Homo sapiens: one gene and its partners. The protein of the gene in region 5 purifies or fractionates together with the protein of the main gene of each other region. This does not show direct contact. Each region holds a gene or a part of one and is shown on either strand. Other genes may lie near its edges. The genes, in order: CLTCL1, ECI2, RFFL, USP15, EEF2KMT, GTPBP1 and LPL.

Region 1 (3,898 bases), on a different chromosome or scaffold from region 5:
GACTGTCTGAAACCATTAGCAAAGCTAAACTAGCTATTGTGTTCCAATTTATGGAATAAGTTTTAGCATCATCTGTGGAATATTCCAGGTGAACAGTTTAGATCAGTGTCTTTTCCCAGCTTTACTCCTTGCTCCTACTTTTTCCCGTGATGGATAGTTGCTTTTCAACCCCTTTATGTGGAAATTCTCTGTATTTTTGACACTCAGGGGAACAGGAGAATGACCTAGTTATTTTCCAAGTGTTAGCAATCTTTAGAGTGGTGCATCGTTGTGGACAGACTCTTCCTTGTTCCCAGTGGCTTGTCAATTTCTTTGGCTCCTTATCGGTGGAGGATTCTGTGGAGTGTCTGCATGCCATGCTGTCTGCTAACATCAGACAGAACCTTCAGCTGTGTGTGCAGGTGGCCTCTAAGTACCACGAGCAGCTGGGCACGCAGGCCCTGGTGGAGCTCTTTGAATCCTTCAAGAGTTACAAAGGTAAACCATGCAGCCTCTCGCCGACCCCACCATGTGACTACACCTCCTTTCTCAGGTGTTGCTGCCTACCTGCCCGCCTTAAGACGGCCTTCCTGCAAAGCCAGGCAGGATGCAGCACTGGCTGCCTTGGGTGCTCAGTCGGTGGCAGAATGCTACTGCCATCTCATGTGCACCCTCAGCTTCAGTAACCTTTTTGGTATTTCCAAAGGAAGAAATCAGGTTGGTTGGTGATGGGATGGAGAAACTTATGGAGCCCGGTGTGTCTACGCAGCACAGTCTGGCAAGAATTCATCTAAAAGCCTGTGTCGTGGGTACAGTGAAAGGGCCTGATGTCTGGTCTTTACAGCCCCAGGAGGGAGGCTCTTTGGGCCTCTCCTAAATGAGAGCCCACGATAGAGGGTGCATTGCTTTGTGGTGTCTGCTACCCAGTTGATTGTGGGGGGCTGACAAGGTAACCTGGTTGTCTTCCTTTCCCCTTCTTGGACATCACACCAAAAAAGTGTTCTAGGGCAGTTGGGATGGGAGTGGCTTTGTTAGGGACAGATGGGGGCTGTCTGGCCCACCCAGGATAGAGACTAAGCATTTGTCTAGGCATCAAGCCACTGCCATGTGTCCAGTGAGGTTGGGGCATCGGTGGAGGGTGGGACATGACCCTGTCCTCAGGGAACTGGCCTTCTCTTTAGAAGACACCCCTGTAGGAAAGACCATGGCAGACGATTGAGTGGAGCTGGGCTGGGAGAGGGCAGTAGAGTAGGTTGGTGGAGAACCGTCAGCCCAGGGGCTGCCCATTCCCTTCCTAGCATCAGGGTCTCACAGTTACAGTGAAAGACCTCGACAGGGAGGGGCCTTCTCAGATGTGTCGTACCCTGTTGTTACTGGTGCCTCCTGGCTGGCCTCTGTAATGATGAGGAACATCATTAGCCTCTGTGAATGCTGTCCTCTGGGGCTCACCCTGGGGCTCAGCATGTGGTGCCCATGTCACTGTCAGCTCTGTGTTGAGTTGCAGGCCTCCTCCTGGAGGCCATGGCTTATTTCTCTGTCCCTTGATGTGTCTTTTTAGAGAAGCAGTCCCACCACCATTTCAGATTACCTCAGTGGGAATTACTCTTGATGACGACTATCTAGGTATACCTGGGCCCACAAAAGGAATTTCACTTGTACCAAATATCTAGTATTTTACATCAAAACATGCCAGGTATACCTGCCAAATATAATGGAAATCCGACTAGCTATTTTTGGGAGCTGCCAAAACAGACAAATGGCATATTGATTATGAGTTCTGAGTGTGCTGTGGGTCCCTGGAGAGTGGAGCAGGGTCATCGAGGGAAGGTGGGCAGCAGCTACGGAGGAGACAGGCAGGTGTTACAAGGACAAAAATGGAATGGTCTCTCTTCATAGGCCTCTTCTACTTCCTGGGCTCAATCGTGAACTTCAGCCAAGACCCAGATGTGCATCTGAAATACATTCAGGCTGCCTGTAAGACAGGGCAGATCAAGGAGGTGGAGAGGATATGCCGAGAGAGCAGCTGCTACAACCCAGAGCGTGTGAAGAACTTCCTGAAGGTGTGTTCCAGTGCTGCCTCCTTCCATGAGCTGCCCTTGCTGATGGCAGGTGGGGCAGACCATCCGCAGGACGTCCCAGGGGCAGGAAGCTGGATCTGTCTCGCCAGGGACCCCTTAGTCCCAGGGACAGAGCTCCACTTTATGGCTTAAAGTTCTAAAGTAACCCTTCTATCGTTTTAAGAGTGTGGAAAGCAGCTTGAGGCTGTGCTCTAAGTATCTGGCACTTATTGCTGCATTGTAATTCATCAACATCCCATTAGTGCCATTGTCAATTAGGCAGGCAAAGCTGCAGAAACAAGTAGACCACTCAGCACTAGTGTCATAAAGAACAGGAAGCCTACTTCCTTATGTGGCAGTCCAGGGTAGGCTGGAGGTCAGTGGGGTGACTTTCCTTCCCACTGTACTTCAAGGACCAGCTTCATGGCTGCTTTGCCGTGTTCAGCACCTCACCTGGATGTCGTCTTCCCAGTCAGCTAGAGGAAGGGAAGAGCACAGAGGAACCAGCATAGGTGGTTTTTATGGGCGAGGCCTGCAAGTGGCAGATGACACTTGGATTCACGTTCCATTGGAGGAAATGAGGTCATGTGGCCACACTTAAAACTTCAAAATGTGATCTAGGCACGGGACCACATGAGGGGAGGCATGATTGTGGTGGCCTGTGGCTGTCCTACCCAAGTGCCATCATCATCTGGGAATGGTGGCCGGGTGTGTTTCCATGGCCTGCGGCTGCGTGTCTGAAAAGGCAGCCCTTACCGCAGGTGTGCTGTTCTTGAGAATGGCCTGGTTTCTGTTGGGTTTGCACATAATGAGCTGCTTGTCTTAAAAGATATTTTTGTCCAGATTTGGAATGTTAATGCCAAATGTAGCAGTCTTTAACCAAATACTAATATCTTTCTCTCACTTATTTCCCAAAGCAAATGCCATACCACAAAACGACAGCCTATTTAGAGCAGTCTCATTCTGAGTCTCCTGTGTGTCACTCTGCTGCAGAGACAGAGCCGTCCCATGTGTGCAATGAGTCCGAGGTCTGGCTGTCTGGTTTCTCCACTCCCTGACTTGTTCTGTGCATTCTAATCCTCAGGAGGCCAAGCTCACAGACCAGCTTCCCCTCATCATCGTGTGTGATCGTTTTGGCTTTGTCCATGACCTTGTCCTATATTTATACCGCAACAACCTGCAGAGGTACATTGAGATCTACGTGCAGAAGGTACTGCTGGCTCCCTGGAGTGACACCCGGCTGCCTCTGGGCCCCAGTCAGTGGCAGTCTTCCCCTCAGAGGCTGCCTGTAACACCTGACATTTCAGAGACTATCATTTTGAAGGGTGGTGGGTTCGTGTGCTCAGACTGCCAGAGTAGAAGACCACAGTCCAGGCAGCTGAAACAACACACATTTATTTCTCACAGTTTTGGAAGCTGGAAGTCCATGATCAGGGTGTCGGCAGGGCTGGTTTCTGGTGAAGGCTGTCTCCCACGCTTGCAGACAGCCTCCTGGCTGTGCCCTCACAGGGCCTTTCCTCTGTGCATGTGCACTCCTGGTGTCTCTTCCTCTTCTTAGAAGGACACTAGTCCCATTACATTAGGGCCCCACCCTTGACATTGATTACCTTCTTAAACACCCTCTTTCCAAGTAGAATCCCACTAGGGGTTAGGACATCAGCAGGTGAATTTTGGTGGGACACAGCGCAGTGCTAAACAGGAGCCCTTTCAGGGTTTTGCCCAAACTGTCCACGTCGTAGGAGGCTTCTAACAATAACTTGTGTTTGCAACACTGAAGTTACTTGACCTTGACTACCCTAGGTCAACCCTAGCCGGACCCCAGCTGTGATTGGAGGGCTGCTTGATGTGGATTGTTCTGAGGA
Region 2 (3,768 bases), on a different chromosome or scaffold from region 5:
GAAACGAATGCTTATTTCTATTCTTATATTTTCTATAAAACTGAACATCTTGGATTACAATTACTGGAATAAAAAATTTAGAACTAAAAAGTTAAGAGATTTGGTGAGTTAGCTAACTTTGACCTTAAAGGAAAGGTCAAAAGGAAGACTAAGAAAAGCAAAATATCCCATCCTTTTCTGTAGCCCTTGGAATTACACCCTCAGTCCTTGTCAAGTGATAGCTATGAAATCAAAACAGGGTGTTACAAGGACAATCAAGGCAGCTTGCAGGGATGCCTTTCATAAAGTACCACATTAAACAAGAATGGGACTCTAACAAATAAGAAAACAATTACTCATACAGAGCATTGCTTTCCAATGAAATGACCCAGTTTTCCCTTCATGCCTCTTTATTAAATTGTGCAAAAAAACCCAACTAAGATTCTTATTTGGGTTCTTATTCTTATTCTTGATTCTTATTTGTTTTCTAGTAATACTATTCCTTCCATTTTGCTCCCTTGCTACATGGCTGAAAAAGAACATGCAACCCACTGAAGACCTCAAGTCAGTGATCTGTAGGCTGTCAGCATTTGGCCCAATTCAGTCAGCCACTGTTTGTGGACGTCAAAGTGCTATAGTGGCATTCAAAGACATGACTTCAGCCTGTAATGCTGTGAGTGCTTTTCAAAGTAGGACCCCAGGCACCATGTTCCAGTGTTCCTGGCAACAACGATTCATGTCAAAAGACGTAAGACTCTCTACTACCAAACACCTGTGTGAATTCTTAAGCTTGTTTTACAAAACTTTTTATTCATCAGAGCTGTAGTGAAATATCATCATTGTAATTGATATTCTAGCACTACAAAAGGCACAATGAAGCTTATTTAGTTCCAGTACTGGAAATCAGAGGTAACAGCACATCCTTCCTTGGACATGCTTTACTCTGCTGTAGTGGTCATCACAGTTTTGATTTTCTGGATAAGAAGTTCACCACAGCATTTGTGCATTCATCTGATAGCCATCTTCCCTGAAGGACATTGCATTCTTCAGCATTAACAGCGTGTAGTTTTTCTCTCTCTCTTTTCCTGATTACCTCTTTTGAAATTCTCAAGGCCTGGAAAAACAAAACCAACAATAAGGTTAAGAGTTGACCTAGGCTGGACGTGGACTCATGCCTGTAATCCCAGCACTTGGGGAGGCCGAGGCGGGCAGATCAGTTGAGGTCAGGAGTTCAAGACCAGCCTGGCCAACATGGTGAAACCCCATCTCTACTAAAAATACAAAAATTAGCTGGTTGTGGTGGTACATGCCTGTGATCCCAGCTACTCAGGAGGCTGAGTCAAGAGAATTGCTTGAACCCGGGAGGCGGAGGTTGCAGTGAGCTGAGATCGCACCATTGCACTCCAGCCTGGGTGACAAGTGAGACTCTGTCTCAAAAAGAAAAAAAGAGTTAATCTAATAGGAGTGAGATTATTCTATGATTCTGGTTCTTGTTTCTCCCATGTTCATTTAATAAATCCTGTTAAATCTTTTTTTTTTTTCTGAGACATAGTCTCACTCTGTCGCCCAGGCTGGAGTGCAGTGGTGCAATCTTGGCTCATTGCAACCTCTGCCTCCCGGGTTCAAGCAATTCTCCCTGCCTCAGCATCCAGAGTAGCTGGGATTACAGGCGCCCACCACCACGCCTGGCTAATTTTTGTATTTTTTAAATAGAGATGTGGTTTTGCCATGTTGGCCAGGCTGTTCTTGAACTCCTGACCTCAGGTGATCTGCCCTTCTTGGCCTCCCAAAGTACTGAGACTACAGGTGTGAGCCACTGTTCTCGGCCCTAATGCTGTTAAATCTTAAGCTGCATGTGTAATATAAGACAGTGCTTCTCAAAATTCAGTGTGCATATAAATCGCTTCAGTAGGTGTGGGGCAGGCCTGTGATAATACATTTCCAAAAAGCCTCAGGTAGCTGCTCAAGCTTCTGGCTCCAGGACTACATTTTGAATAGCAAGAATATAAAAGCAATCAGTCACTCACTACCACATACAAAAACAAAAGTGCTATACAATAAGACTCTCAAAGTAGCTAATCCATGCTTCTCACCTGGATTCCAAAGTAAAAGTGCTCAGCAAATACTGCCTAGCATCCTGCTCAAGTAATCCCCATACAGAATTGCCCTCTGTCCCCACACAGAAATGGAAGGTCTATTTGATAAGTTTTGTAAAAATCAGTACTGCATTTCCAACATTACTACAGTTATTTTTTAATTCCAAATTTAGATGTGCTTAGAGGTAACTAAAGATGTGTCTTGTGCTTTTTATGACTTATTCTCTGAAGGCAAATAAATTTTTCCCTTAGGAAATCATTTTCAAGGTTCTTAGAAGTAAAAGATGAATACTAACATTTGGGGGAAGCTTTGCAAATGCCTTCAGCCTGGTCCAGACTTCTTTCTGAAAAGTGCTATCAGGGAAAACTTCAGTAACAAGTCCTTGAGCACATGCCTCTCCCGCTGTTAACTTCTTTCCAAAAATAAGCATCTCTGTTGCCTGAAATGAAAAGCAAGAAGCAAGGTTAAGATACTAACTTAATAAAACAAGGCTTCAGTTAACTGCTTTCAGGAGGCTTAGAGAGATGTACTCATGGTCTTTTGAGGTTGCTGGTATTTCTCAGTAAGGGAGAAGCTGATGACCTCAATAGGCAACGGTTTGCAAACTGTGTGCTGAGACAGGCTCCTGGGAAGGTCTATAAGGGCTGCTGCTTCTGTGTATCGTTGTTGGAGGGGCAAGATCAGGGGGTCCAGGGCAGAAATGATCTGAAGCAGATGCTTGATTCTATAACCCACAGCAGCTATGATTTTCCATTTGATACACTATAAACTATTATTTTACAGAGGAAAAAAGGAGAGAAAAATTACGGTCATTGGGTCAACCTTTAGAAACTTTCAAAATTCCATTCTCTGGAAACTACCCAGTGATCTGGCTCTGAGAGTTTTCTTTACCTGCATTGGTACTCAAATTAGTTCTATTTGACTAAAGGAAAGCAAAGACTTATAGTTAGCTTCCGAAAAAACTGAGGACATTAAGTGGATATCCTCTCTCCATTTGCAATTTCTTTTCCAGAAAAGGAATGCTCTTCTTTTTTTTGAGACAGAGTCTCACTGTGCTGCCCAGGCTGGAGTGCAGAGGCACGATCTTGGCTCACTGTAACCTCCACCTCCTGGGTTCAAATGATTCTCCTGCCTCAGCCTCTTGAGTAGCTGGGATTACAGGTGCCCGCCACCATGCCCCGGCTAATTTTTGTATTTTTAGTAGAGACAGCATTTCACTATGTTGGCCCGGCTGGTCTTGAACTCCTGATCTCAAGTGATCCACCAGCCTTGGCCTCCCAAAGTGCTGGGATTACAGGTGTGAGCCACTGCACCCAGCCAAGGAATGCTCTAATAGCCAAATGCTCTAAGACTTGTAGAGTCAGTTCTGCCCCCTTCCCAAGTTCAATTCAGGGTATGTGATAGCCTAATGAGAGTAAAAACATACATATATAAGTTTTTAACAAAATCCTAATAGGCAATGAAAACAAGCTCAATTCCCACTGCCCCACTTTGAGATCTTGCAGCAATATTTGCTAAGCCTTTTCCTATAGCTCAGCTTCTGGTCTTGTCACAATCCCCTTCGAGTCATGCCACAGGGCGTGGGCAACTAGGAAACACAGTGAAAGACCTGAGCAGCCACTTAACCAGCCTGGGAGAGAATACACCCGTGAGCAGGCTGATGGAAGGGCTGCTGTGATTGGGGGTGGCTCT
Region 3 (3,898 bases), on a different chromosome or scaffold from region 5:
ACCTCAGGTGATCCACCTGCCTCAGCCTCCCAAAGTGCTAGGATTACAGGTGTGAGCCACCATGCCCAGCCCCACCACACTTTTGAGTGAAGGCTAGACTCACTATCTAGCCCACAAAGTCCCCATGTGATGTGGGCTCTGCTTGCCTTTTCCACTTTACCTCATGCAGCTCTCCCACTTCACTCACCTTGCTCTGTCCTTCGGTCACCTTCCTTCAATTCCTCAAAAATTATAAATTATTTATTGCCCCAGGGCCTACAAACTTGGGTTCCTTTTCTGGCTGAAACATTCTCCCTAGCTCTTTTCACAAGACTGGCTCCTTCTCAGACTGCAGTTCACCTTCCCTATAACATAGCTGTCTGGCACACAGTAGGAGCTTACCAGGTATTTGTGAAAGGAACAGATTTCACATTCTCCAGTCAGGTAACTCCCAAAAGTGAATATCTGGAATCAATCTCACCCTTCAGATCAGTGCTTCATTTCTAAATGCCTGCTAAATTTCCATACCTCAAACTTAGCATACTAGATATAAAACCAACTCTTCCATTTTCCCAAACCAGTTTCTCCAGTTTTCTGAAATTACATGAGCAATATGATCCAGTTTCCACTTCAGAACAATAAATTTCCCATTCATTTGCTCTACCTGTCCAAAATTCCAATCACCTTTAAAGCTAAATTCAAATATCACTTCATTCAATCATGCATTCAATCAACCACTTATTCATTCAACAAGTACTTACTGAGTGCCTTTTATGAGGCAGACACTATGTTAGATACTCGAAAGCAAAGCAGATGTATTTTTGTCTATTATACATCAAACAATCATATAAATATTGAATTATGAACTAAAAAAAAAGTAATGAAGGAAAAATGCCAGAAAACATGAGAAAAAAATGAGAGGCATCAAGAAACACTGTTCTGATGATGGGCTGATTTAATGAAATATAATTTACACTAGGCAGACTGGAAAGAAGAGCATGCTAGATAGGATTCAATCAAGTCCTAGAAGCAGGAGAGATGAGATCTATCTCAATGTACATATCATCTTGCCTTACATATTATATCTATCTATCCCCCCCCACCATACTCATTTTACTGATAGTTACCTGAAAGAAAGGACATAGAGTGTCTCTTATGTGCCAACACAACACCCCCAGGAGACACTGAGTCACTGGTCTGGTACCTAGGAGCTTATGCTTGTAAAAAGCTCCCAGATGACTCTATATGCAGCCAAATTTGTAAATCATATGCCCAAACTACCCATTTAATAAACATATATTGATTATTCTTTCATGAAAAATCTCTAAGGTCAGTGTGGTAAATTGTATCTAAAATTGGTGGTAGGCCAGGTGCGGTGGCTCACGCCTGTAATCCCAGCACTTTGGGAGGCCAAGGCGGGCAGATCATAAGGTCAGGAGTTCAAGACCAGCCTGACCAACATGGTGAAACCCCGTATCTACTAAAAATACAAAAATTAGCCAGGCGTGGTGGCAAGCAACTGTAATCCCAGCTACTCAGGAGGCTGAGGCAAGAGAATCACTTGAACCCGGGAGGCAAAGGTTGCAGTGAGCCGAGATTGCGCCACTGCACTCCAGCCTGGGTGACAGAGCGAGACTCTGTTTCAAAAAATAAAGTTGGTAGTAATAATCCCAATCACATTGCATGCCCTTTTGCAATGTGATTTTTACCCTCTATCCTTTAGAGGTGAAGTCAATGTCCCCTCCTCTTGTATCTGGGCTATAATTGTGACTTACTCTGACAAAAAGAATGGGGCAAAAGTGATGATGTATGACTGCCAGGCCTAGGTCTTATGAGATCCTGCAGCTTCCATTATGGCCCAGCCACCATGTAAAAGAAGCTCGAGCTAGAATTTTTTTTTTTTTTTTTTTTTGAGACGGTCTCGCTCTGTCACCCAGGTTGGAGTGCAATGGCACAATCTTGGCTCACTGCAACCTCCGCCTCCCATGTTCAAGCAATTCTCCTGCCTCGGCCTCCCAAGTAGGTGGGATTACAGGTGCCCACCACCATACCCAGCTAATTTTTGTATTTTTAGTAGAGACGGGGTTTCACCATGTTGGTCAGGCTGGTCTGGAACTCCCGACCTCAGGTGATCCACTCACCTCGGCCTCCCAAAGTGCTGAGATTACAGGCATGAGCCACTGCGCTCGGCCACTCGATATAGGTTTATAAGTGATGAGAGACCAAGAAAGAGAACTCACAGAGAACCAAGATATCCCAGCCAACAGCTAGCTCCAAAGGTACAGACATGTGCAGCCTTCTTGGATCCTCCAGCTCAATCAGCATCATATGGGACAAAAAAAAATATGTCCTCCTTTCCTGAATTACTAACCCACAAAATCATAGGCAATAAAATGGTTGTCATGTTATGCCACCAAAAGTCTTCGGGTAATTTGTCACACAATAGACAACTGAAACAGTCAGAAATTCAACACTCTCTTGGGCAGTCATTCAAACATTTCCCCACTTTGATGATCAAAAAATTCTTTCTCGTATTCATCAAAATTGCTCCTCCTTCAATTTAAGACCATTTCCTCTTAAATCTTTGAAGTTCATGAAGAATAATTAATAAAAATCCCCCTGGCAAAACTATTCTTGTATTTGAAGATGATAATGAAGTTATCTCTTAGCTTTTCTTTCTCTAGGCTAAAATCTTTCCCCCCTTTTTAAAACTTATAATGATAAGACCTGTTTTTCAACCTTTTAATCATTTTAATTATCCTCTCAAGTATGAGAGACCCAAAATTGAACACCATATGCCAATATCTAACAGAGATTATTTCCTAGCTCTAATGGTTCAGCTTTTTATAATGGAATTTCTCATAGTCCCAAATATGGCATTTTAGCACTCCAAAAGTTGTGAAGTGATCTAAAAAGTTAATTACTTACTATAACTGTAAAAGGTTTTCTGCCCTTAACACTCAGCTTACTCCATTTTGGGATGACCGCTTTCACTCACCAGCCTGGTTTGATACTCCACCAGGGCAGCAGGTTTTCACAACTTCCAGATATTTGAAGTATAAAAGAAAAACCTGAGAGGTTGGAGTACGCACACCATTAATTTCAATCAAGGTCTCTAACCACAACCAGGGCCTTCCCATAGGTCAGGCAGGTTCAGAGTACCTCCTCCTCCTACCTTGATGATAAAGTGGCCTTGTAAAAGGCAAGACCGTTAGCACTTGCCTATCGAGCAAAGGCACCATTTCTGTGGAACCTGATAGAGTATATTTAACTACTATATTAAGAGACAAACCAGCTGCTTAATGCAGTGTAAGAACCATGTTTTCTCTCTGAGTCTTACCTAAATGTATATATGCTTTGGTATCAGACTAGCTTTATAATCACTGGTAAAATAGGGATAATAAATAAAGCCTACCCAACGCAAATAAAACCATATGAGGGAAATAATTTTGTAAAACACCATAAAAATGTCGTGATATTGCGGGACTAGATCTCAGCAAACCCTTTAAATCTTCAAATTAACTTTGAATGATTACTTGATGGTGGCAGGTAACACATACAAAATAAGCAGCCATGGGCTCATGTTCATCAAATAGGAATGAAAAACCATGCCATCTAACAAAAAAGCTTCTAATATTGCAAAGAATAACGGTTTGAGCCCGGAGATCCACGTCAGCCACTCTCTCTGATGGTGCCAAGCTCTAGTCCAGGGACACCAAGTTCAGTCAAAGAACTCAACAGTCTAGTGGAAGAGACAGACAGTGCTGTCTGTCAGAAAAGACAGAGAAGTCAGAGAAGATGCATATATGAACTAAGTGTCCTGAGGGATGAGTATCTTGCCAGTTAGAGAAGGGAGAGTCCATTGGGAAAAGGCAGAGTCCTAAAAGACATGGTATATCCATGGAATGTTAACATGAGA
Region 4 (3,898 bases), on a different chromosome or scaffold from region 5:
TGCAGATAATGACTGTCTCATGGTAACTCGGGTAACTAACTTCCATACCTAGGCAAGTATAAAGATTTATTTCATTCTGTGTAAGTACTACAGTTTCTCTTTATTTGTAAGCAGTGAATGATTTTTATCTAAAAACTGATTTTCTAGAGATGAAAATAAGTTACACAAGTGTGAGATGAAGAGAAACATACTTTATGATGTATTTAGTTCTAGACTTTATATTGAGAAGTAAATCAAAATTAATACGAGAGTAATACCTTTTTAAAAAGCAAGAAGAAGGTAGCACTGATTTGTATAAGGAATAAAGCAGTCTCAAAATGATATTTGTTGATCTGTGTTTCAATTTCAACAAGAGATCAGAAAAACACGAACAAAATTTAGAGTTTAGGAACTATAGGAAAGAGATAAATGAACTAGAATTGTATCGCTTAGGATGAATTAAAAACAATTTTCAGATACATGGTGGTTTCTTCTGATGAGACAAAAAGATAATTTGCTTAAGGTACATATGAGTATTTTAGGAACATATTTAAGGAATGGTAGTTAATGAGTTACAAAGAAAATTATGGGTTATAAAATACTCTCTTTGGAAAAAAAGTTTTTGAAACAGAGTCTCGCTGTGTCGCCCAGGCTAGAGTACAGTGCGTGGTCTCGGCTCACCGCAACCACCTCCAGGGTTCAAGTGATCCTCCCACCTCAGCCTCCGCAGTAGCTGGGCCTGCAGGCACATGCCACCACGCCCAGCTAATTTTTTATTTTTAGTAGAGACAGGGTTTCCCCATGTTACCCGGGTTGGTCTCGAACTCCTGGCCTCAAGTGATCTGCCTACCTTGGCCTCCCAGAGGGCCGGGATTACAGGTGTGAACCACCTGCAAAATTTCTGGCCTGGAAATTTTTAAAGAAATGGGCCTATTATGAGTAAGTAAAACATAACCACAAATCATCCAAAGCACTGCTTCGTTTCCACCATTTTTATTAAATGTTATTCATCTGCCAATCATTTTCAGTAATTTTTATGTGTGATTATGTTAAGTGGTAATGTGTAGTTAACTTTTGCAGTTTAGCAAAACATTGCATGCCATTTTTGTATAAACCCTAATAACTGTAGTAGGTAACTTTACAGAGTAAGTAATTTGTGTGTGAAGTCATTTAAAATCTCTGTGACATTTTCATTTCAATAATTGCCAAAGAATCTGATCAGTGAAGTTTTAGACAAGAGACATTGATTTCAGTTTTTAGAGCTTTCTGTCCATTCCGACTTTTACTTAGAAATCTTTGAGGCTTAATTTTATTTGATCCCTTATGTTCGTGCAACTTTGAAACTAAAAGAAAATAACCTTATACTCACAAATCCCTTAATAATGAAAAGGAACACTATTACTCAACATGAATTTCAAAATATTTAGTGTATACTTAAAGAAATTTTTATATTACTATTACTTTTAAAATTAGTTTCAGTAGTGCCAGGGTGTTTACGACCAGAGTAGGGTATATACTACATCATTTATAGGAAATGAAACTAAAAGGAAAAACTTCTTCAGTCTTGGTAAATTGGTGAAAACAAGGACAGAGATAGTGACCTTAAGGCATGTTTCACATCTTAGATGCTTAAAAATCTAGGAAAGCAACTTTTCTTAATTTAAGCCTTTTTCGTAAGTTTTTAAATGACTTCTGTTAGTGAGTCCAGGGTTAATGTACCCTAATAGTCCAGGAAGGTCCAGAGCTAGTCAATGATTTCGTTTATCTGTTTTGTGAAATTAAGGCTTTTTTTCCTAAATTATACCATTTTCCTGTTAGCACATATAAGGCATTAAATGACCTTTTTGCAAAATGGTTTTGTGACAGTTAACAATTTTGCTTCTACGTAAGTGTAACAAGATAAAATCAGTTTGTCAGGCCATGACCTGTAATATTACATTTAAAAACACTATGTGCCAGGTACTGTTATAAATGCATATTGACTTATTTACTCATCACCATATTACCACAATTCTGGGAATCGGTGTTATTCACATTTGACAAAATAGGAATCATAGGCTCAAAAAGGTTTTCACATAGTGGTATAGCTGGGATTTGAACCCAAGTAGTTTAGGTCTTTGGTTTGTGCCCTTAAAGCACTGTACCACATTGCCTCTGATTTTATTTAAAAAAATTTTTTCTAGAGACAGAGTCTCGCTTCATCACCCAGGCTGGAGTGTAGTGGCATAGTCATAGCTCACTGTAGCTTCAAACTCCTTGGCTCAAGCAATTTTCCTGCCTCAGCCTCTGAAATAGCTGGAACTACAGGTGTGCGCCACCACACCCAGCTAATTTTTAAAGTTTTTGTGGAGACGGGATCTTACTGTGTTGCCTAGACTGGTTTGAAACTCCTGACCTCAAATGATCCTCTGACTTCAGCCTCGCAAGTATTAATAGCTGGGATTACAGGTGTGAACCCCTATGCCCAGCCTCTGTCTCTTATTTTAAAGATTCATTTTTTAAAAAGTAGATTCACTTTAAAAAGAAAAGAACCTATTTTTCTTTTTAAAGGAAGTCTATTTTATATTTAGTAGCAGAATTCTACCATTTGCCTCTTGTGACTGTTCAGTTTAGATATGATAGAACATGTAGGAAATCTTAACACCTTGCTTCTGGATATTAAAACATGCTTAAAGATTGATAGGTGAATAATTGAATGTACAGAGCAAATGTCATTTTGATCCACAAGTACATTCAGACAAAAAAATTTGAGGTCATTTACTATTGAGCTTTTGAATTTTAATTGTCTATCAATAATCATAAGCTCTTATTAGAGATGATATGGCCCCTTCACATATAGTTTTACAGAAATAACCCATGAAGCATATAGTAAGATCTTGTAGGCTATTTTGTTTCGGTACTTGGTCCATATTTTAAAAGTATGGTATTGGTTTACTATAAGCCACAAATACATACGGCTTTCTTCTTGGACTTAAATCCATATGAACCACTCAGCACAGAAAATGCAAATATGAATGCATTATTATGTTCACCAACTGATTTTTTCCCTAGAGATAACTCTTAAAGAATTTTTGAAGTGAAAGAACATTTAAATTAAGATAGTGGAAGATACAATGATAATAAAACAGTCAATTTTGCTATCTTAGTCTTGAATTTATCTTATGATGTGAGTTTAGAGTGATTCTTCTTTTTTTCACTGAAAATCACTTCATTAATAAGTCATGATTATTGACAAAAGTAAATTGAAACCATTGGGCATATTGGTAGGGAAATAAGGGGAAGATAGAGAACAACTGATAAAGGTTGATTATGTGCATTACGAGATTTGATCCTCAAAAGAAGGACCAAAATATATATATTTATATGACTTATAGATGAGGAATCTGAGAGAAATTAATTTGCTTGCTCATAGTTTACTACCAGCGGACATTTATTAAATGCTTAGTCTGTCGCAGCCACTATTTTAAATGCTTTACACTTACATAGCCTTTAAAGTACATGCTCTTATTACACTTCATTTTATCTTTGATGATTTCAGAGCTGGTTTAAATACCTGGTTTATAAAGATTTAAAGTACTAGATACTATCTAATACTAAGAATAGATCCTTAGTATTAAAAATGGTTTTATGCTGTCACTACTCGAATGTAATTCAAACAATATTTCATTAAACCATGGGAATTTCTCTTTTTTCTTAGTCCTTGTATAGAATTTTTCAACAATTACTAAATACTTTTTTTCTTCCCTGAGTAATGTCAGTCTAGCTTGTTTCTTTTAATTTCCTCACTTACCACTGTAATTCACATTCTGTGTCTCATATTCATTCCTCTGAAGCCACTTCGCCAGACTCGTTCTCCCATTTATCCTTTAAACAGGGGAATGTAGATCCTTTAGATTTTATCACCCAGTTTACACAAAAG
Region 5 (3,898 bases):
TAAACCATCCACAGCAAAAACAGAGATGACAGGTGCAAAACAGCTTCTAGCATTTGGTTGATGTTCAGAGACTTTCTTTTTTGCTTTCATGAGGCCTGTCCTGCCCACTCCTGTCTCCTCTAGACCTAAATGGGCCCTTGCTTTGCCCAGGGTGGGGTTTGGACTCAAGTGCATCTGCCTGCAGGTGAGAGGCAGGATCACCACCCGGCCCAGCCACAGCCTGACCTTGGCCTTGAGGGCCAAGTGCAGATCACCCTGCATCCTGGGTCTTCACGTTCGAAGGGCCATGAGCCCTTCTGAAAAGACCAAGCAATAGACTCCCTCGCAGAAAGAAGTGCACCAGAAGAATACATTTTCCATACAAACTCAGGAGGCAGATATCCTCCACCCCCACCCACCCAGCCCATCCTAGGAGCCCCGGTGAAGAATTCCTGTGCTAGAGGTGAACCAAGATTATCCATGTGGAAAAGATACAGCCACAGCAGGGAAAACTTTCGGGGCAATACCAGGGCTTCGAGCATGGAGATACCTGAAGTTATCTCGCACCCTGCTCTGAGTTTCACCCTGAGCCTCACTCTCGTAGGTGGTGAAGCATGAAATGTAGGGAGAGCTGCTTTAAAACCCAGCACAAGGCTGGGTGCACTGGCTCACACCTGTAATCCCAGGACTTTGGGAGGCTGAGGTGGACAGATCACCTAAGGTCAGGAGTTCCAGACCAGCCTAGCCAACATGGCAAAAACCCATCTCTACTAAAAATACAAAAATTAGCTGGGCGTGGTGGTACATGCCTATAGTCCCAGCTACTCAGGAGGCTGAGGCAGGAGAATCGCTTGAACCCAGGAGGCAGAGGCTGCAGTGAGCCAAGATCGGGCCACTGCACTCCAGCCTGGGCAACAGGGCGAGACTCTGTGTCAGAATAAATGAAAAACCAGCACCAGCCTGAAGAGCCTGTGTATTGCGTGGGGTACTTTGCTGCCCTTGGGCAGAATCTGCATCCCTCCCAGCCAGCAGGCACTGTGGACCGTCTCCTCCCTCTCCCTCCAGGCTCCTGTTTTCCCGCCGTCCCCACTCCTGCTGCACCAGTCCCTCTGCCCTCCTTTCCAAGTGCCAGGCTGTGGCCACCTCAGAGCTTGCACCAGCTGTTCCCACTGCCTAGAACTTGCTCATCCTGCATTTGGCTTCTCTGGGCTTTAGCTGGAGTGTCACCCGGAGCGTCCCGTCCCCTCCATCCTGTCCCCAGGGACACACACTCCAAGAGAGCAGTTGCCGAGTGGGCCTTCCCGCCTCTTCCATAGAGCCAGACCGTTGGCGACTGTCCTTACTGCAAACCCTGGTTCACACTGGCTCCCCTGGGAGGGAGGCGGTTTGGGCCCACATGCCCTGTGTTCCTGCTCAGAATGGGCGTTAGAAATGCTGCCATAGCCTGTGCCACTGCAGTGGAAGCATTTTTAGGAAACAGCTTATATCTTAAGACAAACTTCAGATGCATGGGGCCAAAACGCTGTGTCCATCTACATCTTTGCTGAGGGATCGGGTAGCCTGGAGTTTGCCCTCTGCTGTGTTGGCTTGAAGCTCATAGGAGACTTAAGACGGGCTCTCGAGCAACCAACGTTCTGTCCTTTGCCGTAGACTGTGAAGCATCCTGTGTGTGTGAAGCACCCGCCGTCCGTCAAATATGCCCGGTGCTTTCTCTCAGAACTCATCAAAAAGGTCAGTTATGGGCAGTGTCCGCCCAGTAGCCGGACAGCATAGCCACCTGCGTGCTGGAGCCCCCGTCCTTCCCAGGCCCTGGGCCTGCTTTGCAAACCCCAGCATGGCAGGGGCCTCCCCAGGCAACTGGCTGCAGCCACATGTGACCCATGGGAGACAGTGCAGGGCGGGAAGAAGGGGAGGCCAGCATCTCTCCCTCACTCTGCCTCCTGGGGTTTCCACGGCAGCTGCTCCTCTGGGGCCCCAGCTCCTAGCATATGGATTCTCATTCCTACCAGGCTGGCCCAGCCCACAGCACTGGAACCCTCACCCGCACCCTCTGTCCTGCCCGCTGAAGGGTTTGGAGTTTCCTGCTCTTGTCCGTCTCTGGGTTGCCCCACAGGCCCCTGTTGGAAGATTTAGCTCTTGCCATACCTTCGGAACTAGTTCCTCTGGTGAATTCTCTGCATTAATCCTGCTGGAATGAGCTCTTTCCTGACTGATAAAGGATGAATTTTATTTTTTACTTATTTATTTATTTTTTTGAGACAGAGTCTCACTGTGTTGCCCAGGCTGGATTACCGTGACACAATCTCGGCTCCCTGAAACCTCTGCCTCCTGGGTTCAAGCAACTGTCATGCCAGCCTCCTAAGAAGCTGGGACTACAGGCACACGCCACCATGCCTGGCTAATTTTTTATTTTTAATAGAGACAGAGTTTCACCATGTTGGCCAGGCTGGTCTCGAACTCCTGACCTCAGGTGATCCGCCTGCCTCGGCCTCCCAAAGTGCTGGGATTACAGGCATGAGCCACCGCACCTGGCCTAGGATGGATTTTAAAGATGCGCCCGAACATGCAGGGTTTGACATGAGGATGTCGAGAGGCCTCCTCAGTAGGCAGTAGCAGACCTGCTGAGTGAAAGAGCCACACTTTTAGCAAATAAACAATCCCCTGCTTCTCCAATACCTGCTTTCTCCCTAGTCCTCCCCAGAAGCATGCATCTGTGGTCACCAGCAGGTCTGCCCTGTGCCACCAGGAGAGGGCAGCAGTCACCCAGTGTACTCTGCTGCTGCCCTGTGAATCATAGGACGGGGCCAGCTGTGGAGAAGCGGCCTGCTGACAGCCACAGCCTGCAGCATGGGCCGCCCTCACACTTCTGCCTGGGCTCACTTAAAAGCACCTTTTGTTTTCCTCCTCTCTGTGTTTGATCCAAACACGGCTCTCTATCATGGTCACCTGGCAACTCTCACGGAATCCTTGTCTCCTGCCCTAGACTACACCTAACCCTACCCTCCCAACACCTCTGGTTCAAGGCCCTCCCATCCAGGTTTCCCTACCAAGTGAATTTTTTTTTTTAGAGACAAGGTCTCTGTTGCCCAGGCTGTCCTCGAACTCCTGGGCTCAAGCAGTCCTCCCATGTCAGCCTCTAGAGTAGCTGGGACTATTCGGCACACACCACCAAGCCCAACGAAGTGAATATTTTATATGGCAGCTGGCCGGTATTATACCATTCCATCGCAAATCTCCCCTCCAAACTTGGTGAAAATCATCTGGCCATTTTTACAGATTAGAACGAAAGCAAACAAGCTCTCACTCTGTCTGCCCCCAGCACGAGGCTGTCCACACAGAGCCTTTGGACGAGCTGTATGAAGCGCTGGCGGAGACCCTGATGGCCAAGGAGTCCACCCAGGGCCACCGGAGCTATTTGCTGGTATGAGAAGGGCACCCTCCTCCCCCTCACAGCCCAGATACCCTTCCTGCACAGACAAAGTGAAAACGTGGGTGTGGGTTCAAATCCTGACTCACCCATTCTACAGTCTTAGACATGAGGTCCGTCAACCTTCTTTAGCCTCAGTTTCCCTGTCTGTAAATCAGGCACTTCAACAACAACAGCATGTCTCGTGGAGTTGTTGGGCACTTATCCAATAGGTGACACACACTACCTGCTTCACAAGGACCTGGTGCCCAGTCCTCAAAGAATACTTGACAGGGCTGGGCGTGGTGGCTCACGCCTGTAATCCCAGCGCTTTGGGAGGCCGAAGTGGTTGCATCTGAGGTCAGGAGTTCGAGACCAACCTGGCCAATATGGTGAAACCCTGTCTCTACTAAAAATACAAAAATCAGGCCGGGCGTGGTGGCTCATGCCTGTAATCCCAGCATTTTGGGAGGCTGAGGCGGGGGGATCACCTGAGGTCAGGAGTTTGAGACC
Region 6 (4,694 bases), on a different chromosome or scaffold from region 5:
TAGGACCACACTTGCTAGAAGAGCACCACAGCCAAAGCTGATCAATATAGCCTAACCAAAGATCCTGACTGAACCCCATAGCACCCTCATCTAAAAAGGCTGCACAGCCCCTTCATGCCCTCTCTGCTTCTCCTGAAGTAGCCTTTGAGCCTCAGGCCTTATATGAGCCAAATAATATACTACAATGTGTATGTCTGAGCCATAACCCATGGTAAAGAGGGCACAAGCAGCCTGCCTCCTGCTGCTTAACAGGAAGGGCAGGACCCAAGTGACTGAGAATATGGCACTGTGGATAGAAAGCGCAGTGCTTTCCATCTACATGCCAAAGTCTTCTACCTGCAGTTGGCATCTGGAAGCCCACAAGACATATACCTCATATACCTCCATGCCCTCCACCCACAGGCCAGTGGCTTCCAGGATAACAAAAGAATTCTGTTCTATCTTGTCTTAGCTATATTGAATATTTGGGAATGAAAACTGCCTGCAAGACTCATCTTCATCAACAAAGCACCATCACCATTACCACTACGAGGAGTATTAGCACCGTCATTTTGCAAATGTCTGCCAATAACATTGAAGTGTCAACCATTTACTTGGGTAAGCCATTTGGCAATCAGACCCCATTCTCTAACCACTCCTGTGTGACCTTGGACAAAGAATTTAACCACTCTGAGTTTCAGTTTTTCAATCTATAAAACGGAGCTAATACTACCTGCATCCTAAGGCCACTGTAAAGAGCAAATATAATAACATGTAAAGCATCTAGTCCACAGCTCAATAAATGTGAAACTACAAGGTTTTCTTCACCCAATCATTCCCAGAAAAACCTTGTTGGATGAAACTAGCCACCACTATTCACTAAGTGTTTCTCCCTTTGGAAGCTCTCGGAGCCTTAGGTCTCCACATTTTCTATCGTAAGGACATGAACCTTTCGCTTCTAATCTGTTCCTCCGGAATCAATCTATTCAACCCAACCCTTCTCTCCCTCCACACCATCACTTTTTCTTTTTGATATCATCGATATTAATATACATATGATTTTTTTTAATTGTAAGGAGGACTTCCCCAGCTATGTGATGAAATAACACTTCTAGGAATATTAAATGAGCTGGTCAAGAAATGAAGGTACTACCGTCTTTGCAACTCTGCCCTGCAATTTCCTATCATGTTTCTTCAGCACCTTGACCATGTGTTGACATCCAGTTTGTTTGCTCTTGAGTCAGGTCCATAATCTTGTAACTTCCTGAGTTGACTCATCAGAGCTTGTAATTGTAACCTGGATGTTTCCTGGGTCTTTTACATCGTCCTGGCCATCCCTCTCTCTAAGTTTGGCCATCCTCATTATGGCCTTACAGGCACAAGACAGGACCAACTTTGACAGGCTAGCTGGCTTCCAAGTGCTCACCTGAGACTACAATGGCAAAGAGCAGTTGAAAATAACTTGCTTAGGTTGCAGGGAAAGTTCCTCCCCAGTTTAGGACCAAGTTTCATGCAAATTTGCCGCCATAAACTATAAAAAGTCACAAACATTTTCAAAGCTGGATAAAATGTCTATCGTAACTATCCTACAAATGTAAGTGGTGGTATTGGTGTTCTATCTTTCACCCACTGCTATTTAATCTGCACAGGAAATTAGGAACTATCTCGTTCACTTCAAACATTTACTGAGTCTCTAGTATGCATCAGGCACTATTAGGTGTCTTCTTAAATATTTCTAATTTTTACAACCCATCTGTACTTTCTTAAGATGAGGTGGTTGGAGAACTGAAAGGTTAAGAAACTTTCCCAACGTCACAGAGCCTTTCGATGGTAGGGCAGGAAAGGGAACCCAGCCCTGTCTGACTCCCAAGTTGGCATTCTTTCCCTAAGGAACGTTAAGCACCTTCAAAACACCAGTCACATCTTGTATTTACTTTTCTATTCTTCACAATGTCAAGCCGTTGGCGAGGCCTTAATTCCTGCCTACCTTCTCGACAGCTCAAAAAACACGGTTTTAAACGTCCTTCACTGCTCCACTCATACAAGATGAGCTTCCACTCACAGGATAGCGAGACTAAGGAGCCTGACCATCTTTCCATTTTGTTTCGGGTGGCCTCGAAAAGTAGACATTCTCGGACATGCTCCTCCCCAGCTGAGCGACTACTTTCTGTTTCCTTTCCCGAGTCTGGGAAGAGACGCGGCGGCCACCCTGCCCTGGCCTCCGACTACCTGTCTTCATGAGCGTCTCGGCCCCCTGCCCGGGCCCCCTCGCCCCTCTGCTGTCCCGCGCGGTCCAGGGAGAGGAGACTCTCGGTCTCCGAATCCCCTCAAGTGGGGACCCGAAGAACGGGGAGGGGCACTGAGCGGGGACAGGGAACGCGCGGAGCGCAGCTGGCATCGGGCGCCCCCGTTCCACGTGGCAGAGCCGAGGGGTTACGATCTCGGCGGGAGACGGGAGGGCGGGAGGCTGGGTTGGCGACGCGGGGGAGCCAAGGTGGGTGCGGGGACCATGGGGACGGCCCCTCGCGCCGCGAACCCCCGCACGTCCCGGAGACTAGCAGGTGGGCGGGCTCGGCCCCTTCTTCCCGTTCCGCGCTCCCCGCGGACAGGGCGGCCGCTGGCCCCGCCGTCGCCCGGGAGACTGCTCGGCCAGCCGCCCGCTCCCCTCAGCGCCCGCCGCCGCCGCCCGGGCCTACCTTGCTGGTGAGGTCCAGCTCTGGCTCGCCGTTGAGCGCCTCGCCGTCCTCGCTGCAGTCCGAGTCAAAGCCGCCGTGGAGTCGGGCGGCGGCCGCCGCGGCCCTGGCCGCCCCCGGGGAGCTGGGCTCGGGGGCGAACATAGAGGCCGGGACCGGCGAGTCCATCGCGGAGCGACTGCGCTCCGTCGCCATCTTTAATAACTTAGGCTAATTCGTAGCCGGCTTCCCTCCCTCCCAGGCTCATTTGACTAATCTATGCACAGAGCCCCGCCCCGCTCCTTATCGGAATAATTTATGCAAAACTCCAGCCGCGTACTGGGTGACACGTACCTCTAGCTAAGAAACAGTCGACTAGGCCTCTCAGCCACCAATCCCTGCAGAGCTTTCAAGTACCTAATGAATAATTAATGAGGCCCAAATCCCAACAACAAATGTCTGAGACGTCACGCGCCCTGCTCCCAGCTTGGGAGGGGGCAGTACCGAGTCCCCGCTACCCGCCTGAAGCCTTCCCGCCAACGGAAGCAGAGAAGTGTCTGACTGACACAGCAGCCATCCAATGAGGAGAGAAATACAAACAACGTTACTCGTCAACGCCCCTTCACTCTCCTTGTTTCCAGAGGCGGTACTAAGCCTGCAAATCTTACTGCAAAACAGTAGGCGCTGTAAGCCTTCCGATGACGGACAAGGGCAGGACCCAATCGAGTCATAGAACAGGTCCCGCGCCTGGACCTGCTCATGGAGATAGTAAACTGCAAAATGAGCCTCCCACTCGATTCAGTGACTGAGGCAGTTGCTGGAACGCCGATGTCCAACGTGCTGGCATGCTCCAGGCAACTTTAATAGTAGGATCGATGCTGTAAGTTCCAAGAGTTGTAATACTATAGCAGCCAGAGTGAGGCAATAATTAAATGCTGACCTTAGGGAGAATTCTCCATTCACTGCCTTTGCGGAGGCAATCACACGAACTAAAAACAGAGGCAAGCAGCTAAAATTAAAAGCCAAAAAACACCTCACCACTTTTGTGGTGAACTGCTAAACCGAAATCTAGGGTCTCATAAGGTAGTTTCCTATGGATTATTTTTCCAGTGTCATCAGTTGTGAAAAGCCCCAACCCAAAATGCCATCAACACACGTTTTAGTGTCTTGAATTCCTGTTTCAAAAGCCGGAAAAGCCTAGGCCGTCATTGTTTGGCGAAATTAGGGATTAACCAACGTCTATGAATGTCGGCCTTGGCCACTCGAACCAGGCATCAAGCAAACAAGAGCATGTTTGAGAAGATAAGGAATCCAAGACTTAGGGTTTGGACCTAAACCCTAAATCTTTAGTGAGCAAGTGGCAGGATTGAAAATGGCTTTCAGTTTTGGGGATCTACCTGAGAAGAAAGAGACAGTCTCTTCTTGTCCCTGTTTTCCACTACTATCAAGTCTTATTTGCACAAACACAGCTGGGAATCTTGGACAGGAAGTCATCTGATTCCAATGGTCTTGATACTGTTCTTATGTGCTTTTTAATTTCTTCCTTGCCAAATTGCTCACCTCCATCCTATATGGGCCGGGAGCAATGGCTCACACTTGTAATCCCAGCACTTTGGGAGGCTGAGACGGGTAGATCACCTGAGGTTAGTAGTTTGAGACCAGCCTGGCCAACATGGTGAAACGCTGTCTCTACCAAAAATTAGCTGGGCGTGGTGGCATGTGCCTGTAATCCCAGCTACTCTGGAGGCTGAGGCAGGAGAAGCCCTTGAACCCGGGGGGGGGGGGGGGGGGCGGAGGTTGCAGTGAGCCAAGATCACACCACTGCACTCAAGCTTGGGCAACAGAGCGAGACTCCCACTCACAAAAAAACAAAAAAACAAAAAAACAAAAAAAAAAAACAACGAAGTACTGGAGGCCTGAACTCATAACTGGCTTCTAAAGGAGGGGCACAGTTTTGTGGGACTGAGCCCTTAATCAGTGGGATCTGACAGTATCTCCAGGTAGACAGTGTGAGACGAATTGAATTGAACTAGAGGACATCCA
Region 7 (3,898 bases), on a different chromosome or scaffold from region 5:
TTTGAGAAAGGGCTCTGCTTGAGTTGTAGAAAGAACCGCTGCAACAATCTGGGCTATGAGATCAATAAAGTCAGAGCCAAAAGAAGCAGCAAAATGTACCTGAAGACTCGTTCTCAGATGCCCTACAAAGGTAGGCTGGAGACTGTTGTAAATAAGGAAACCAAGGAGTCCTATTTCATCATGCTCACTGCATCACATGTACTGATTCTGTCCATTGGAACAGAGATGATGACTGGTGTTACTAAACCCTGAGCCCTGGTGTTTCTGTTGATAGGGGGTTGCATTGATCCATTTGTCTGAGGCTTCTAATTCCCATTGTCAGCAAGGTCCCAGTGCTCAGTGTGGGATTTGCAGCCTTGCTCGCTGCCCTCCCCTGTAAATGTGGCCATTAGCATGGGCTAGGCTATCAGCACAGAGCTCAGAGCTCATTTGGAACCATCCACCTCGGGTCAACAAACTATAACCCTTGTGCCAAATCCAGCCTACTTCCTGCTTTTGTAAATAGTTTTTTTAAAACTTTTAAGTTCAGGGGTACGTATGTAGGTTTGCTAAAAAGGTAAACTTGTGACATGGGAGTTTGTTGTCCAGAATATTCCATCACCCAGGTATTAAGCTTAGTACCCATTAGTTACTTTTCCTGAAGCTCTCCCTCCTCCCACCCTCTGGGAGGCCCCAGTGTCTGTTGTTCCCCTCTATGTGCTCATGCAAAGTTTTATTAGGACACAGCCACACACATTCATTACCATATTGTCAAAGGCTGGTTTCATGCCACCATAACAGAGTTGATAGCCCACAGAGCCTAAAATATTTACTCCCTGGCCCTTTACAGAATGTTCACAACTTACATAAAGGCAAGGACCATCTGTCTTATTTATTTATTTATTTAATTTGAGATGAAGTCTAGCTTTCTCCTAGGCTGGAGGAGAGGGGCATGATCTTGGCTCACCACAACCTCTGCCTCCCGGGTTCAAATGATTCCCCTGCCTCAGCCTCCGGAGTAGCTGGGATAACAGGCATGCACCATCATGCCCAGCTAATTTTTGTATTTTTAGTAGAGAGGGGGTTTCACCGTGTTGACCAGGCTGGTCTCGAACTGCTGACCTCAGGTGATCTGCCCTCCTTGGCCTCATCTGTCTTTTTAAATGCAACTATTCCTGGAAGGCAAGAATATCTCACACCTTCTAAGATACTGCCATTTTGCCAGGAGTTTGTTTCACACTTGAATTTCAAGCTTGGCCTCTTGTTTAGAGGCAGACCTAAAGGAATGGTCGGAAAATGAGAGAGGAGGTCTTCGGATAAATCCGGTGAGAGGGACCAACTTCAGGAAGGGTGGCTTTTGTGGAATCCAGATGGAAACCTGAGGGAAGGGATGATATTAAAGAACAGTGGCCCCAGGTAAAACATATGGCACCCATGTGTAAGGTGATTCTTAGAATCTGTAGAGGTGTCTTTCGTGGTATAGAGGTTGAGGCACCTGTGCTTCAAGGAAACCTTAACTCTTCAAAATCAGGCAATGCGTATGAGGTAAAGAGAGGACTGTGGGACCATAATCTTGAAGACACAGACAGGCTTCACTCATCCCTGCCTCCTGCACCAGTGGGTTCAAGGCTCTGTCAGTGTCCCCTAGGGGCACCTCACCACTCCCAGCTTCTTCAGCTCTGGCCTGTCCTGCTGCCTGCAAGGGTTTTGCTTAATTCTCAATTCAATGTCTCTTCATCTTTTAGCAGCTGTGGGGTTTTGTTGTTGTTCTTCTGTTTTTGCTTAGTATCTGACTACTTTTTAATTATAAAAAGAGATGTATCTAAACAAAATAGAGATTGTTATCAGAAGTTCACAACATTTATTAAAAATTTTTTCACCTGGACAAGAGTCTAAAGCAGCATAAAAATATGGTCTGCTATATTCTAAACCATCAGTCTTAAGAGATCTGTGTCTCAGCTTAAGAGAAAATACATTTAATAGACAGTAACACAAATAAGAAAAAAATCTGACCAAGGATAGTGGGATATAGAAGAAAAAACATTCCAAGAATTATTTTATTTATTTATTTATTTATTTATTTATTTATTTATTTATTTATTTTTGAGACACAGTCTCGCTCAGTTACCCAGGCTGGAGTGCAGCGGCGCAATCTTAGCTCACTGCAACCTCTGCTTTCCGGTTCAAGCGATTCTCCTGCCTCAGCCTCCTGAGTAACTGGGATTACAGGCACCCGCCACCACGCCCAACTAATTTCTGTATTTTTCTTAGTAGAAACAGGGTTTCACCATGTTGGCCAAGCTAGTCTCAAACTCCTGACCTCAGGTGATTCACCCACCAAGGCCTCCCAAAGTGCTGGGATTACAGGCATGAGCCACCATGCCTGGCCTCCAAGAACTCTTTTTTCCTCCATCATCATGGTTCTATTTTAGTCCTGCTGCCTTTCCTTTTAACCTCTCCCCAGGCCCATTTGCTCAGGGTTTTTGGTAGAGACCAGAGGAGGGGCAGGGAGGAGATATAGAAGTTCAACTACCTGCTTCCAGAGGCTGTCCCTAGTATAGAATACTTTAGGGGCTGGCTTTACAAGGCAGTCCTTGTGGCCTCACTGATGGCTCAATGAAATAAGTTCTTTTTTAAAAAAAATTTTATTTATTTCCATAGGTTATTGGGGGAACAGGTGGTGTTTGGTTACATGAGTAAGTTCTTTAGTAGTGATTTGTGAGATTTTGGTGTGCCCATTACGGAATGGAAAAATCAACGAAATAAGTTCTATGATGCACCTACTAGACACCTAATCTGCGCTAGATGGTGGGGGAATTAAGAGCATGGGCATGATCCTGTGACCGGAAGCCCGCTTACAGTCAGGGTGGAGGACAGACCTACTCATGAAACAAACACAGTGACATATAGTGACACAGAAGCAAATGTCAAATATGCTTGCTCCAGATGCTAAGGCACAAGATGGCCAAGGATGGCGGAGTTCATGGAGAAAGCATCATGAGTGTTTTGGCCTTCTGATTTGATCTCCCTAGCACCCCTCAAAGATGGCTACTTCCTAATGCTGCTTGGCAATTCAGACACATTTGGGTTTTTCCTATGCATATAACCACACTTTTCTGAAAGGGAGTAGAATTCAAGGTCTGCATTTTCTAGGTATGAACACTGTGCATGATGAAGTCTTTCCAAGCCACACCAGTGGTTCCATGTGTGTGCACTTCCGGTTTGAGTGCTAGTGAGATACTTCTGTGGTTCTGAATTGCCTGACTATTTGGGGTTGTGATATTTTCATAAAGATTGATCAACATGTTCGAATTTCCTCCCCAACAGTCTTCCATTACCAAGTAAAGATTCATTTTTCTGGGACTGAGAGTGAAACCCATACCAATCAGGCCTTTGAGATTTCTCTGTATGGCACCGTGGCCGAGAGTGAGAACATCCCATTCACTCTGTGAGTAGCACAGGGGGGCGGTCATCATGGCACCAGTCCCTCTCCTGCCATAACCCTTGGTCTGAGCAGCAGAAGCAGAGAGCGATGCCTAGAAAACAAGTCTTTAGTTAAAAAAATCAGAATTTCAAAATTGAGGTCTTTCCTCTATTTGATATTGAGAAAAAAATGCTTCAAATTGGCCATTTTATTTTCACTTACTAGTTATATTTTTTTATTTATCATCTTATATCTGTTTATTTCTTTTATAAAGCTGCTGTTAAACAATATAATTAAACTATCTCAAAAGGTTTGACATTAAAGAAAATGAGCAATGGTAACAGGAAACCACTCTATAGATGTACATATAATATGTACAGAAAATATAAGTAGTAAGAAGTCCATGACAAAGTGTTAGCTCTTTTTTTTTTTTTTTTTTTTTTTTTTTTTGAGATGGAGTCTCTCTCTATTGCCCAGGCTGGAGTGCAGTGATTC

What was found.
Region 1: the proteins of EEF2KMT (region 5) and CLTCL1 purify together in Homo sapiens (affinity purification with mass spectrometry; one large-scale study listed by BioGRID and IntAct). This does not show direct contact.
Region 2: the proteins of EEF2KMT (region 5) and ECI2 purify together in Homo sapiens (affinity purification with mass spectrometry, with the first as the bait; one large-scale study listed by BioGRID). This does not show direct contact.
Region 3: the proteins of EEF2KMT (region 5) and RFFL purify together in Homo sapiens (co-immunoprecipitation; one large-scale study listed by IntAct). This does not show direct contact.
Region 4: the proteins of EEF2KMT (region 5) and USP15 purify together in Homo sapiens (affinity purification with mass spectrometry, with the first as the bait; one large-scale study listed by BioGRID). This does not show direct contact.
Region 6: the proteins of EEF2KMT (region 5) and GTPBP1 purify together in Homo sapiens (affinity purification with mass spectrometry, with the first as the bait; one large-scale study listed by BioGRID). This does not show direct contact.
Region 7: the proteins of EEF2KMT (region 5) and LPL purify together in Homo sapiens (affinity purification with mass spectrometry; one large-scale study listed by BioGRID and IntAct). This does not show direct contact.

Annotation. Positions count from the first base shown.
Region 1 is NC_000022.11:19,222,032-19,225,929, reverse strand, and holds part of CLTCL1 (clathrin heavy chain 2), read left to right. Parts: intron 1-296; coding exon 297-477; intron 478-1,875; coding exon 1,876-2,039; intron 2,040-3,120; coding exon 3,121-3,246; intron 3,247-3,836; coding exon 3,837-3,898. UniProt on the Homo sapiens protein: Clathrin is the major protein of the polyhedral coat of coated pits and vesicles. Two different adapter protein complexes link the clathrin lattice either to the plasma membrane or to the trans-Golgi network.
Region 2 is NC_000006.12:4,114,937-4,118,704, forward strand, and holds the end of ECI2 (enoyl-CoA delta isomerase 2), read right to left. Parts: intron 2,516-3,768; coding exon 2,372-2,515; intron 1,094-2,371; coding exon 938-1,093; 3' UTR 770-937; downstream 1-769. UniProt on the Homo sapiens protein: Able to isomerize both 3-cis and 3-trans double bonds into the 2-trans form in a range of enoyl-CoA species. Has a preference for 3-trans substrates.
Region 3 is NC_000017.11:35,057,148-35,061,045, forward strand, and holds part of RFFL (E3 ubiquitin-protein ligase rififylin), read right to left. Parts: intron 1-3,898.
Region 4 is NC_000012.12:62,263,404-62,267,301, forward strand, and holds part of USP15 (ubiquitin carboxyl-terminal hydrolase 15), read left to right. Parts: intron 1-3,898. UniProt on the Homo sapiens protein: Hydrolase that removes conjugated ubiquitin from target proteins and regulates various pathways such as the TGF-beta receptor signaling, NF-kappa-B and RNF41/NRDP1-PRKN pathways.
Region 5 is NC_000016.10:5,091,296-5,095,193, reverse strand, and holds part of EEF2KMT (protein-lysine N-methyltransferase EEF2KMT), read left to right. Parts: intron 1-1,629; coding exon 1,630-1,710; intron 1,711-3,298; coding exon 3,299-3,400; intron 3,401-3,898. UniProt on the Homo sapiens protein: Catalyzes the trimethylation of eukaryotic elongation factor 2 (EEF2) on 'Lys-525'.
Region 6 is NC_000022.11:38,704,129-38,708,822, reverse strand, and holds the start of GTPBP1 (GTP-binding protein 1), read right to left. Parts: upstream 2,880-4,694; 5' UTR 2,868-2,879; coding exon 2,676-2,867; intron 1-2,675. UniProt on the Homo sapiens protein: Promotes degradation of target mRNA species. Plays a role in the regulation of circadian mRNA stability. Binds GTP and has GTPase activity.
Region 7 is NC_000008.11:19,955,954-19,959,851, forward strand, and holds part of LPL (lipoprotein lipase precursor), read left to right. Parts: coding exon 1-130; intron 131-3,306; coding exon 3,307-3,427; intron 3,428-3,898. UniProt on the Homo sapiens protein: Key enzyme in triglyceride metabolism.